Homo sapiens: one gene and its partners. The protein of the gene in region 4 purifies or fractionates together with the protein of the main gene of each other region. This does not show direct contact. Each region holds a gene or a part of one and is shown on either strand. Other genes may lie near its edges.

The links. The genes of interacting proteins can lie anywhere in the genome.
Region 1: the proteins of CHODL (region 4) and RAD51C purify together in Homo sapiens (affinity purification with mass spectrometry; one large-scale study listed by BioGRID and IntAct). This does not show direct contact.
Region 2: the proteins of CHODL (region 4) and COL2A1 purify together in Homo sapiens (affinity purification with mass spectrometry; one large-scale study listed by BioGRID and IntAct). This does not show direct contact.
Region 3: the proteins of CHODL (region 4) and AP3S1 purify together in Homo sapiens (affinity purification with mass spectrometry; one large-scale study listed by BioGRID and IntAct). This does not show direct contact.

What each region holds. Positions count from the first base shown.
Region 1 is NC_000017.11:58,706,102-58,709,601, forward strand, and holds part of RAD51C (DNA repair protein RAD51 homolog 3), read left to right. Parts: intron 1-3,500. UniProt on the Homo sapiens protein: Essential for the homologous recombination (HR) pathway of DNA repair. Involved in the homologous recombination repair (HRR) pathway of double-stranded DNA breaks arising during DNA replication or induced by DNA-damaging agents.
Region 2 is NC_000012.12:47,994,477-47,997,976, forward strand, and holds part of COL2A1 (collagen alpha-1(II) chain isoform 1 precursor), read right to left. Parts: intron 3,449-3,500; coding exon 3,395-3,448; intron 3,232-3,394; coding exon 3,130-3,231; intron 2,150-3,129; coding exon 2,072-2,149; intron 1,444-2,071; coding exon 1,399-1,443; intron 1,288-1,398; coding exon 1,234-1,287; intron 833-1,233; coding exon 779-832; intron 2-778; coding exon 1-1. UniProt on the Homo sapiens protein: Type II collagen is specific for cartilaginous tissues. It is essential for the normal embryonic development of the skeleton, for linear growth and for the ability of cartilage to resist compressive forces.
Region 3 is NC_000005.10:115,911,258-115,914,581, forward strand, and holds the end of AP3S1 (AP-3 complex subunit sigma-1), read left to right. Parts: intron 1-831; coding exon of another isoform or gene 832-879; exon of another isoform or gene 880-2,098; intron 2,099-2,104; coding exon 2,105-2,233; 3' UTR 2,234-2,824; downstream 2,825-3,324. UniProt on the Homo sapiens protein: Part of the AP-3 complex, an adaptor-related complex which is not clathrin-associated. The complex is associated with the Golgi region as well as more peripheral structures.
Region 4 is NC_000021.9:18,258,333-18,261,832, forward strand, and holds part of CHODL (chondrolectin isoform a precursor), read left to right. Parts: intron 1-1,867; coding exon 1,868-1,954; intron 1,955-3,500. UniProt on the Homo sapiens protein: May play a role in the development of the nervous system such as in neurite outgrowth and elongation. May be involved in motor axon growth and guidance.

The DNA.
Region 1 (3,500 bases), on a different chromosome or scaffold from region 4:
AGGCAAATTTCATTGGACCATAAGGCTCAAGAATAATCCTTTGCTGGCCAGGCACGGTGGCTCATGCCTGTAATCCCAGCACTTTGGGAGGCTGAGGCAGGCAGATCACGAAGTCAGGAGTTTGAGACCACCCTGGCCAATATGGTGAAACCCTGTCTCTACTAAAAATACAAAAATTAGCCGGGCATGGTGGTGCGTGCCTGTAGTCCCAGCTACTAGGGAGGCTGAGGCAGAAGAATCACTTCAACGCAGGAGGCAGAGGAGATTGCAGTGACATGAGATCATGCCACTGCACTCCAGCCTGAGTGACAGAGTGAGACTCCATCTCAAAAAAATAATAATAATTAAAAAAAGAATGATCCTTTGCTTTGATGCTCTGCCTTCCAGGCCCACTGCAGTAGCAGAATCACCCTACTGCTCTGTGGGGTGGCCCTGCCCCTTCCTCTCTCTGCAAGGGCCCCACCCTCTGAAACCAAGGACGACATAGCATTGCCCCCTGGGCTTATGGTAAGAGTGACAGCTCTGAGGATCTGTGATCCCCTTTGGCACCATTCTTTCCTTTTCTTGAGGAATAGGGCACATTCACAGTCAAGTAGCTCATGGTTTTCTCTTGTGGAATCAAGGAAGTCCAACAGCCTTCGTTCATTCTTTCCCACTTACTCTGTCCTCTTTACTTCAAACTAGCAGTGTTTCTGCTGTTATAATCCCTTATCTATCACTGGCTTCTGCTGAGATGGCTGATTAACATCATGGATAATCTATTTATAGAGTCATTGTTCAACCGTACCTTTGGTCTTCTCTCTAGAGCAAGCTTTCTTATTTTTAGCAATATGGATAGGCTGAGAATTTTCTACATCTCTAAGTTCTGGTTCCTTCTTGCTGAACAATTCCTTCTTCAATTCATCTGTCTCCTCTTTCATTTTTACTATAAGTGGTCTAGGAGAAACCAAGCCACTTCCTCTACACTTTGCTTAGAAATCTCCTGAGATAAATAGCCAATTTCATTTCTCACAAGTTTTACCTTCCATAAAATACTAGAACACAGCCAAGTTCTTTGCCACTTTATACTAAGCACCAGCTTTCCTTCAGTTTCCAGTAACTTGTTCCTCATTTCTGTATAAATCCTCACCAGAATAGCCGGGCATGGTGGCTCACACCTGTAATCCCAGCACTTTGGGAGGCTGAGGTGGGCGGATTGCCTGAGGTCAGGAGTTCAAGACCAGTCTGGCCAACATGGTGAAACCCCGTCTCTACTAAAAATACAAAAAAATTAGCTGGGTGTGGTGGCGTGTGCCTGTTAATCCCAGCTACTAGGGAGTCTGAGGCGGGAGAATTGCTTGAACCAGGGAGGTGGAGGTTGCAGTGAGCCAAGAACGCACCACTGCACTCCAGCCTGGGCAACAGAGCGAGACTCCATCTGAAAAAAAAAAAAAGCCTCACCAGAATTGCCCTTAATGTCCATATTTTCAGTATGTGCCTCAAAACTGTTCCAGCCTTTGCTTATTACCCAATTTGAAAATCACTTCCACATTTTAGGTATTTGTTATAGTAGTACCTTGCTTCTCTCACTACCTAACCCACCATACCTCATTTCTTGATACTAAAATTTGTTGTGGTCACCTCAGGCTGCCATAACAAAAATACTATAGTCTGAGTGGCTTGAACAACAGAAATTTTATTTTCTTACAGTTCTGGAGACTAGAAGCTCAAGATAAGGTTCTGGCTGATTGGTCTCTGGTGAGAGCTCTCTCCCTGGCATGTAGATGGCCACCTTCTTGCTGTGTCCTCATGGGGAGGAAGGAGGAAGAGTGAGCTCTTTGGTGTCTTTTCTTCAAGGACACTAATCCTCTCAAATCAGGATGTCATTCTCATGACCTAATTTTACGTTAATTACTACCTTAGAGGCCCTCTCTCCAAATACAGTCACACTGGGAGATAGGGCTTCAATTTACGAATATTGGGGGGACACAGCAGTGGTCATGTGTGGAGTCATGAAAAATCGAATCAACCTGTGCACATATTCCCAGCTGACGTTGAACAAGGTCATGTTCTGCCTTTTTATTTCAGCTCTCTACTGTAAACAAGTGTCCTTTTCACAGTCTTTATAATGCCACTTTTTTTTGCATTTTTGTGCTTTTTATTAGTGTTCACCTGTTCTTCATCACTTCAACCAGTTTCATTTTCTTATAATTATCGGAAATTACCTTATTTGTGTGTTTGTTTGCATATTAATGGTCCCTTACTCCACTAAAACATAACCTCCAAGAGAGCAGGGACCTTCTCTCTTATTTACTATATTCTTCTCTCTTATTTACTATATCATCCCCAATGCCTGGAACAGTAAATAGCATATAGGAAAGGAGGTGTCAATTAATACTTGCTAAATGAAGAAACAAATACTCTAAATAAAACAACTTACTTAGGCATTGCTTCATAAAAGCCTCTTGTTTAATCCAACCCTTACTAGATAGAAAAAAACATAGCATTGGAGTCTTTTGTTTGTTTACATTTGGGTTAGTTTCCAGATTCTTTTTGATTTGGGGATCTTAAGGTTTATATATTGGTTTATTTTTCTAACTTCACTGTTTATTTTTTGCTTTGGGGGGGGCTTTCTTTTGAAAGGGTTTTGCTCTGTCCCCCAGGCTGGAGTGCATGGCAGGGTTTCACCACGTTGGCCAGGCTGGTCTCAAACTCCTGACCTCGTGATCCACCTGCTTCGGCCTCCCAAAGTGCTGGGATTACAGATGTGAGCCACCGCGCCCAGCCTGAAGGTTTTTTTGTTTTTTGTTTTTTGTTTTAGGAAACATAAAAAGAACCCGGAAGGTAAAATTGGTATATTTAATTGACAAATGTGTTGTTTTACCAAGACTTTTTCTTTAAGCCTTTTCAGAATGTTTTACAAAGACTTTAAATGTGCTTTTTATCAGTAAAGACTGTGTACAGTGGCAAGTTAAAGAAAATTATAATTATTCCTTTTTCTTTTTGAATTACTTTTTTTTTTTTTTTTTTTTGAGACAAAGTCTCACTCTGTCGCCCAGGCTGGAGTACAGTGGCGCAACCTCTGCCACCAGGGTTCAAGAGATTCTCCTGCCTCAGCCTCCTGAGTACCTGGGATTACAGGTGCCTGCCACTGTGCCTGGCTAATTTTTGTAGTTTTAGCAGAGATGGGGTTTCACCATCTTGGCCAGGCTGGTCTTGAACTCCTGACCTCGTGATCCACCTGCCTCGGCCTCCCAAAGTGCTGGGATTACAGGTGTGAGCCACCGCGCCCAGCCTTTGAATTACTTTTTTAAAGTTGAGAAATTATCAAAGCAGAGTCCGTTTTAACTTTTAGTGATTATTGCAGAAAGCACTGGCTGAACAGCTTTGTAACTTTCCAAAAGAAAGCCATACTTTAGACAGTTGGAAATAAAGCCCTGGGTTTTAAGGTTTTTTCCTGTAATGGACTATGGTTTTTCCAATGCTATGTTTTTTTCTATCTAGTAAGGGTTGGATTAAAG
Region 2 (3,500 bases), on a different chromosome or scaffold from region 4:
CCTGAAGGGAGAGAGAGAGATATCCCAGCTTCCTCAGAGACGCAGTAGCATAGTGGGGGCACCCCAGAGGGCTTCCCTCCTTCCAGCCCTCCATGCCTTTGCCTACCGGCTCACTCATCTCCCTCACCTCCTTCAGACTCCACGTGCCTGGATGCCTTTCATGGGTCACCATTTATTCTTTTGGACACATGCATAGCCCATGGGCAAGCTCCTCTGTCCTCACCAGCCTCCAACTTCCCCTGAGAGGCTTTTTCTCTCCTCTCCTAGGTTCTGCTGACTGTATGTGCTCTCTCTAACCTCAAGAGACTTTTACTGTCTAATGCAATTCATAAAAATAGCACAAGAGTGCCAATTCTTGTCTCTTCATTTCGTTTGCATCCTTTGTAGACATCCTGACTCAGGCTGTGCTTTTTCTAACTCATTTACAATTAAGATAATGCTGGGTTGTTGAACGCTTCTTTCTTTGTTTTTCCTTCTCTACATCTTTCTGCCTTGTATTTTTTCTCTCCCTTCTCTCATTTCTCAATTTCCCTTCCTGGGGCTAATGATGTTTTAATTATTTGTCTTCCCCTTGGATCCAAAGCGGTCCCCAGGGAACTTGCCAGCACAGTCACAGTGGCCATATAGATAGGAGATGGCGTCAGGGTTTGGGACTGCCCAGTCTTGCTCCTCAAGATACCTCCACCCTGGGTGCCTCCCTGTCACTCCCCAAGCACACACCCTCTCCAGGCCCTTTCAAAGGAGGCAGCTCCTCATTTGTCTACTCGTGTATACTCACATCATCACCAGGCTTTCCAGGGGGACCAGGAGGACCACGGGGACCCATGGGACCCTACAAACAAAGGAAGATAGTTTAAGAGATGGTTATAGTGGGAAGACACCTAAGCAATGGACAAAACTTTGACATTGTAGTTTTGGAAGCCAGTTCTTCTATGAAGAAGAAAGATGGGAAGGTCAGAGCAAAGGTGCAGAGATCATAGTGGGACGCAGCAGATAGCACAGGCTGGGGTGACCCGGAAAGGGGGCTGTTAGGACAGAGTCCCTGGTGGTCCTTGCCACATTGGGCTGTCTGTCAGAGTTCCTCCACAGCTAGGAAGTGACATCCGAATTTCCTTGGGGCCACCGACTGTGGGAAAGAGCTGGGCAGAGCCTGGGAGGGACAGCAGCTGCGGTCCTAGTGGTCTATCATTAGAGGCTCCCCCAGAGAAGGGACAGGGCCGTGCTGGTACTCACAGAGACACCAGGTTCACCAGGTTCACCAGGATTGCCTTGAAATCCTTGAGGCCCCTAAAAAGTAAAATGAGGATACCAGGTCAATCCCTATAAACTGCTAAAACATCATAGTGCTTGGGAATCATCTGCGACACGATGGAGGCAAAAAGAATTGCAGATACTTACAGGAGCACCTGCAGGGCCTGGAGGTCCTCGAGGTCCCATGGGGCCCTGCATCGGAACAGAAAATGAGGGGTTTACTACACATGCTTCCTCAGTGGCCTCCAGTGTGCCATCTTCTCCCAGCCAACAGCCCGGGCAAAGGACAAGAAGTTACTCTGTGGGCAAGGGGCCTAGAGTGGCTGCTCCCTCTCATTTCCCACTCCCCACGCAACACTCTATTTTTATTTATAGGCACCATTTGGACAGAAAAGCTGGCCTTGCTTTCTCCTGGACAGCAGCCATGTTTACTAAAGGCTGAGTTTCATTTAGCATGTGCCAAGTCAGAGCTGCGGGCTGAGATTTCCTGCTGGAAGTCTGTGGATGCTGGAGAACAGTAGCTGCTGTCTGCATTCTTCAGTTCTCATTCCAAGAGCAATAGCAACTGGTCTTCTAACAGATCAGCCTATATGCATCTCCCCATCTTCATTCTTCTTAGTCACTCCAGCGCATCATTAAAAGTGGCATCCATTGCCATTAAAAACCAAATGCTTTGGGCTAGCTGAATGGGAGGTTACATAACTACGGAGGAGAGCCACTCTAAGCAATTATCTGTAAAGCAGAGGTTGTCAGACTCTCTGGCTCTGCTAAGGGCCACCTCCTGCCATTTTGGCTGCAAAGAACTAGTGTCTTTTCTTACCATTGGTCCTTGCATTACTCCCAACTGGGCGCCACCAGCCTTTTCATCAAATCCTCCAGCCATCTGGGCAGCAAAGTTCTGCAAAGAAACCCAACAACGTTAGGAGGTTGAAAGGCACTAGGTCTTCCCTACTTGGCTAGGTAAGCTCTATATGGATACAAAGAACTCTACTGAGATAAACTCTGATTGTTGGAGACTAACCTATCATTGATCAGAATTACCACTGATGCCTGGAAAGTAATTTTGGGAATGGATTATTAGATGACAGTGGCAAAATCATTTCACTGGAAGGGAAAGTGTTATTTGAGGAAGTATCAGTTCCTTGCATTTCATTTTATAAAATTATTTTTATGCTCTAAAATATGACAGATGTTATTTAACGTATATGGAGAAACATAACCAAACCTTCTAAGGGTGTTCTTTATTCTTTAAGACTTTAGTGCCCAGCAAAAGACTAAAATCAACAGTCTTGGAATATTTCAGCAAGAGATGTAGTAGGCATCTGTGATCCCATTTGAGTTTAAGAATTTAAAATACAGCAAACATCAAAATAGCAAACCTGCAAAAACTAGGCAATCATATAATTTGTTGATTGGTTTGATTCCAGAATTGACTTTAGCCACACACCTTCACTCAGTGGAGCTCTTTCATGAGAGTGAATAGTTGCTTGGAATGTACTTGGCAAGAACCAAGGATAAATGTCTTCCAAGGACAGTGGTCACTCGTCTTCCAGGGAAATACAAGTGCCCAGTCATCCTTCCTCCTATCCCTTACACCCACCCCCCAGCATCAACTACGTGGTACAGATGCCAGGAAGCCAGGTAACTGAGGACTTTCTTTATAGAATCCCAGTTAGTGAAAAAAGCCAGCCCTTAGCACCACAGTCTCATGCCTAATATGTGACTCTTCTAAATTACAGGCCTGAGGGCAAAGCCCATGGACAGGCTATGTACACACTGCTGGCAGCCCTGGGAGCCAGCCAGGTAAGTGCAAGCAGCAATTTAAAAGCCACATTTCTGGAGGGACAGCCTGAAGGAATGGGAAGTAAGGATACTTACTCCACCAAGACCAGGGGGACCAGGGGGGCCGGGAGGACCAGGGGGGCCAGGATTTCCAGGGGTCCCAGGTTCTCCATCTCTGCCACGAGGTCCAGGGGCACCCTTGGCATAAAGAGAAAAAGGCATCAATGGGAAGCAGTGTTTCTCCAAGAGCCATCTGTCCCTTGGCTGCTCTTTAAGAGGTGACCAGGCCCTTAAACACATGGTGGGGCCTTGGGGGACCTGGGAAGTCCACCAGGGTCAAGCAGCATTGCTTTTTACTCACTTTTTCACCTTTGTCACCACGATCCCCTCTGGGTCCTTGTTCCCCTGCAGGTCCCTGAAGGTGAAGAACATGGTAAGATGACAGCAAGGCCAGGAGCCTGCAGATC
Region 3 (3,324 bases), on a different chromosome or scaffold from region 4:
TGTACATTTAATACTGAAAACATTATGTTTACTATTTATAAGTGTAAACCATAGTGTCCAATAAAATACACAGATAAACACACACACACACACGCACAATTTCTCTCACAATAATAAAATCCCTTAATAATTCACACCTTTAAAATATTTATACTCAAATATTTTGTCAATACTTTTCTATAGTCAGTTCATTATTTGTCTTCTTTATGGAAATTCCTAAGTAAAAATAGTGGCAAATTGGTCTTTTAACTAGAAAAATTACAAAATCCTCCTATCTAAAAAATGATACTACCTCCAGGACGTCTGCAATTTTGTAAATTTTTCTTCCTTAGTAGACAACATACTTCCTGGTAAAAGAAAGCCAAAAGATGGTAAACCTCTTTGAATTGGATTCTTCTTTGATCCCAACCCACTCTAAATTTTGGTAGCTAGACCTTTAACTTGAAACGATCAAATTAAAGACCCTTTCAAATATTATACATGCTGCCTTAATTATTATTTAGTTGTATCTCCAACATCTTTGGGGGAGCAGGAAGGAAGGGGGGGTAACAAAAACTTCATTGCTTCAGGTAGGTATAAGTATAGAGGTCAATCACATTTTTAGTTGTACATCAAAAATAACTAACATCCATTAAATTATAAAACTTCTCCAGCCCTATTCACTATTTAATTGGGTATGGAGTTATTCATTTGTATCACTCTTATCATTGCCTGTGTAGAATATACTTATTATTAATACTATTCTACTAATTTTTCTATTATTTCCAATTCTGAATTGATAATCCATGGCTTTTATTTCATTGCTTAACAATGTTTGTATCCTTTATTTAGCAAATAGTTTACACTGGCCTATTTTGTATCAGTCAAGATTTTTCTCAGGTAACAGCTTTATTATTATTTTTATTTTAATTAACAAAGGTAGGATTACATAAGAAAAGAAAACTAAAATTATGAAAAGGGACCTTAAAGCTAGTGTTTCTAATTTTATGGACATTGCCATATATAATCTAATCAAAGTGGAAGATTCGTTTTTGTTGTCTATTTTTGTACAAAATGATGCCACTGAACTCAGATGTCTTTGTTGACTTTGCTTTATTATATAGCCTGAATAAAAAGTAATGAAATGTAATTGGTATATAAATTAAACCTCAAATATGAAGGCTGTTAACGTAGGTGAGAAAAATGATATGTATGCATTTTCTTTTATTTGTAAGCATATTTTCTTTTAAAATTATTTCACAAATTACAAATGTTCCTACTAATAGGAAAGCCAAATATTATGCACTAGTGGTACTTACTGGAAATTTTAGAATTCATTTATTTATATTTACTACCTCTTGCATTTATGCTTTTCTTTCTCTAAATTTGTAAACTGTAAGCTGAATATATGTTGCTGAATCTATGCTATATGACAAAACATTTTTAATCGTTATATTTTTACTAATGCATCAAAGGGTTGGAATGATCCTCTTCGTGTAGTTTCATCTTTAGGCAGAACTATATTCTTTGGATTGAGGCTTTACTTGAAAGCCTATTTTTTTAATGTTCTAGAACTTTATTAGAAAAGTTTAAAAGAGCCCTCACAATTTAAAAAACTAATTTTATTGTTTTAAAATGTTTTAAGGGTTTATCCCTAAGAAATTAAACAAGCACAATCTATTACTTGCAATTTTTATTTCACAGCACATATTGCTAATAAATGCCATTTTAAAAGCAAAAGAAAATCTATCACAATCGTTGCAAGAGATATTTAATAAGGAAACTAATGTAAATCATGCTTCATGCTATCTGTCAGTTAAATCAAGATATAGGTGAAGATTTAGGTTTTATCATGTGAATATTGTGTGGTAGTGCACATTAATTTGTATTTAAATCTTTACATTGTTATCATTGCATGTGTTCACTGTATTTTTTAATGTGTCACTGTTTTCTCTTTATAGATTAGTATTTCAAAGTAACCATTCCATACCAATTCAAACTACCATCTGGTCCCTAAGCTTGTTATATGAAAATCTTTTATCATTGTCTTCCATTGTAAGTGTTTTATGATGAGCTACACCTGAGTTGTACATTTTCTTTTTCTTTTATTTGCTTCTGTATACAGGCTGGCTTAGCAGGAGCTCCAGCCCGTGCTGTATCAGCTGTAAAGAATATGAATCTTCCTGAGATCCCAAGAAATATTAACATTGGTGACATCAGTATAAAAGTGCCAAACCTGCCCTCTTTTAAATAAAAATGTAAAAAGGCCACTCCCAGGTAAAATCCAGGGGGAAGAGTCATCTAAGTTTACCATGCAGTTGTTTACCAAAAATAGAGGAGGAGAGTCTTAACTTTTGCTCTTGGATTTAAGTCAAGGTACTGTATAGAAGTTGTGTAAAATCAGTATGAAAGTTCAATGTTGCTGTTCTTGCTCAGTGATTTTAAAGAAATTGAGTAGTTCCTATGTGATTTTTTTTTTTCTTTTCTAAACTGCATTCCTGTGCCCACCTACGGCATGCCTCTATGTATTGGCTACTACAGTGTTTTAAAAAGTGTTTCAGATATTTCTCTAATTATGTACAACCTAAAATGTTGGTGTTTTGTATGGATCACAAGTGCAGCATTCCTTAATTCCTTCTGCTATATGTCACACAGTTGTTATTTGGAGAACCAAGTATGTATTGCATGAAAACATTATGACTTTTTTCTCTTAGTTTAAATAAACTCCAAGGTAACTGGACTTCTAAAGCACCTTTCTGTTTGCCTGATATCTACTTTAGCAATAATTTTTTTTACAACCCTCTGACTCAACAAAGTAAATAAAAGTATATTTTATCACTATTAAGCAGATGTTAATGTCGATTTATTTTTTACTCATATTTTTAATATTCAGAAACTCAGTAAATTATTCGGAAACTCAATTATTTCACAAATCAAGAGCAGTGTATCTTAGGCATATTGCGCAAGATGAGATCTGGAGTGGGGGGGCGACAGTCTTTCTAAAATGTATATTGAGAAAATGTAAAATCTTTTTTATACAAATAGCTTTAAGCCTTGCCTCTTGTTCCTTCTTGCCCAGATGGTAAAAAATAATTTCAGCCAATACCTAATTGATTTTGAATACAAAAACCCTTGGGACTCTACTTGTCTGTTTCATCCTAAAACAAAGTTAAACTAATGTTTTCTTAAGTCCTAACACTCACATATTCTAGTTTCTTATAATTGGCCCACATTTTATTTGGTCTTCCATGAACTGTGAGTGAGGTTACTTTTCCAGTTAGACTAAGGTTTTCCTTACAGTTCTAGTTCTCCTTCCTCAAATATTCTCTTTGAAATACTTCCATA
Region 4 (3,500 bases):
TGATATTTTAAATTTGTGACATTCTATGTACTTAAGACTACTGGATAATACAAGTACAATATTATGCATTATTCTTAATATTACATTATCGCCTTCTCCTTTCTTTTGAGTTCAAAGGTCAACTATTTGACCCTTCATTGTATTATATTTATTTTATTTTTGCATCAAAATTTATGCCATTATTTAGGACACTGTAAATCTTACAATCTTCTTTACTTGTTTATGTATTAGGTAATCTAGGTTTACATTACTCATGCAAGAGCATTTATGATATAAAATTATTCTTTCTTTATCTTCTCCATTCTACCCAAATCTTCAAATAATCTATATTTATTAAAATATTATTTTATGTAGTTTTTGTTTTGAAGCACATTCACGGGTTTACTGTTGGCCTTATTAATGTGCTCAGGATTTTTATTTTTTATTTCATGATTTAATCTTTTTTGTCTTTTTATTTATATTTAGTTAACCCTCCTTGAGCTTAGTGTCTGCTTAGTAAAGGATGTTGGTTTGATTAAATTCCTTGGTTATGTAATCAGTGCTTGATTTTTAGTGATATTTTGCATAATATTTATATTATTTGTTTAAAAATACCAGTTGACTAGGCATAGAGTGACTAAGTTCTCTAGAAGAGTAGGTATAGTCTAGGACTGAATCTGAAACCCAGAGGAGGCTATTAAAATGTCAGAGTTAAATCTGTGTACAAGAGTAACAAATATTTCTACAGAATGGATTATGATTAAACTTCCAACAAAGGGGGACTCTGTGACATTTTAAGGCAATGTAAGAATGGTAAACATTAAATTAAAATTCTTCTCTATCCTGAAGACTATATAAGAACATGGGTTCTTATTTCAATTGATAAAAGTAGAGAGTTACACTTTTGGAACAAATGGAAACAAATTTACAGGCTTTTTTTTAAATAATTCAATTTATTTTCATTGAATTATTGATTTAACAAATAGTTCCTTAAGGAAAAGAAAAATAGAAAATAGAGCAATACGAAATCATGACAATAAACTTCAACAATTTTAAAGTGTGTAGCAAGAGAAAAAAAAGCCAGGAATAATAGTTAATGGATGCTGGGCTTCATACTTAGGTGATGGAATGATCTGTGCAGCACCGCACCATGGCACACGTTTACCCACGTAACAAACCTGCACATTCTGCACATGTACCCCTGAACTTAAAAGTTAGAAGAACAATAAAAAATAAAGTGTGTGGAAATTGAAGAGACATCTATAAAACTAGGGAAAGAAACAACTTGCAAGCTTTAATTTAGTGTTATTATTATTATTTTTAAAAGTAGACACTATTGGAAAGCAAATCTAAGGATGGCATTGTATATGCAGAACAGAAATGTGGCTTAGAACGTTGTTACTTGAATCATCAATTCCAAATGCAATCCACATACAGTCATCTGCTGATTATTATTGCAAGGGGAAACCCAAATAATACACTGATATTAGTAAAGAAATTATCTTGCTTGTCTCTGAACTGCATTTAATATATCACACTCTTACGTTTGCCAATTCTTGGTTATCCTTGCTTAACTTTGTGACTGGTCCGCCATTATTGCCTGCAGCAGGCTATCATCAGCACAGACCCACTGTTGATTGCTAATTGCAATTTGGAGTTTTAAGGGAGAACATATCAACTCCATCTTTTATTCAAAGAGAATTAAATGTTGACTTTATAGTTAGATAATTTCATGTAAATTTAAATTCAGAATGTATTTTATTAGCTGTAAGCTGTTCAGAAATCAAAATTGTGATGTTTTTATTTTATAATATAATTTCATATTTATATATATTTTCAATTCTCTTGTTTAATCATTATATATGATGGTGGTTCTTATTATTTACAGAGATTAATCCAACAGCCCCTGTAGAAAAGCCTTATCTTACAAATCAACCAGGAGACACCCATCAGAATGTGGTTGTTACTGAAGCAGGTAATTACTTCATGTGTCTTTAACTTCATCAAGAACTGAACTGTACTTTCAAACGCTGCTTCATGTTGACCCCAGTGAAACTTGTCTTGCCTGGGGAAGTGGTTCACTAAGTATGGTCCTATGGACATTTACTTTTGAACTAGGTTAGAAAAAATTATGCTAAGCTAGTATTTGAATAGAAAAACCTGTTTTGTTTTCTTCAGAGTGGTACTAAACTAAGTGATCCACATTAAAATTTGGATCTGGCCAGGCACAGGGGCTCACACCTGTAATCCCAAGAATTTGGGAGGCTGAGGCAGGTGGATCACTTGAGCCCAGGAGTTTGAGACCATCCTGAGCAACCTGGTGAGACCCCATCTCTGCAAAAAATACAAAAAACTAGCCTGGCGTGGAGGTACACACCTGCAGTCCCAGCTACTGGGAAGCTGAGGTGGGAGAATCACCTGAGTCTGGGAAGTCGAGGCTGCAGTGAGCAGTGATCATGCACTACAGTCCAGTTTGGTCAACAAAGTGAGACCCTGTCTCAAAAAAGCAAACAACAACAACAACAACAACAACAACAAAAAAACACCACCAACAACAACAAAAGAACTTTGGATCTACAAGAAATTTCTCTAACAACATGTAGGCGTCATGATGCAAATTGGCACATTCAGTGGAGAGCAAACAGGGGTGGGCTGGTAAATGTTTAGGGATTGGTTGGATCCTTAAATTGCTTGAAGTCAAACAGGAGTGGGAGGAAACAGCAAATTATCGCTCAGATACCCTATTGCTCATGAGTTTGTCTTCTGTTAACAAATGAAGTGATGCGCAGTTAAATGTAGATAAAAGCTTTATCTACATCTGGTCCACTTTGACCAGAATTATTCAGATTAGTCATGATGATGACTTTTAATTTACAAGCTAAATGCATAGTTCTTGAATTTGCTTTTTTTGCATAGACATGATATTAAGGCTTAGTGCTTTTCACTTTTCAGGTGCCTGGTTTTAAAACCATTCAGAACATCTAAACCTAATTACATATGTAACTAACCTGCACAATGTGCACATGTACACTAAAACTTAAAGTATGATAAAAAAAAAAAAAAAGATCAGTAGGCTGGGCGCAGTGGCTCACACCTGTAATCCCAGCACTTTGGGAGGCTGAGGCAGGTGGGTCACCTGAGGTCAGGAGTTCGAGACCAGCTTGGCCAACATGGCAAAACCCTGTCTCTACTAAAAAATACAAAAATTAGCTGGGCGTGGTGGCAGGTCCCTGTAATTCCAGCTATTTGGGAGGCTGAGGCAGGAGAATCACTGGAAACTGGGAGGCAGAGGTTACAGTGAGCCAAGATTGCGCCATGCACTCTGGCCTGGGAGACAGAGCAAGACTCTGTCCCTCCACAAAAAAAAAATATTCAGTAATCACATTAGAAATACTTTTTTCTCTTTTGAAATTGAGCAGATGTTTATTAATTTTAAGTTGTATGGAATTACAGTGTCACGGTTTTTTAATTTTACTAAGAATACCTAGCATTATCAAATGTGATGGAACAGGATTAAAAAA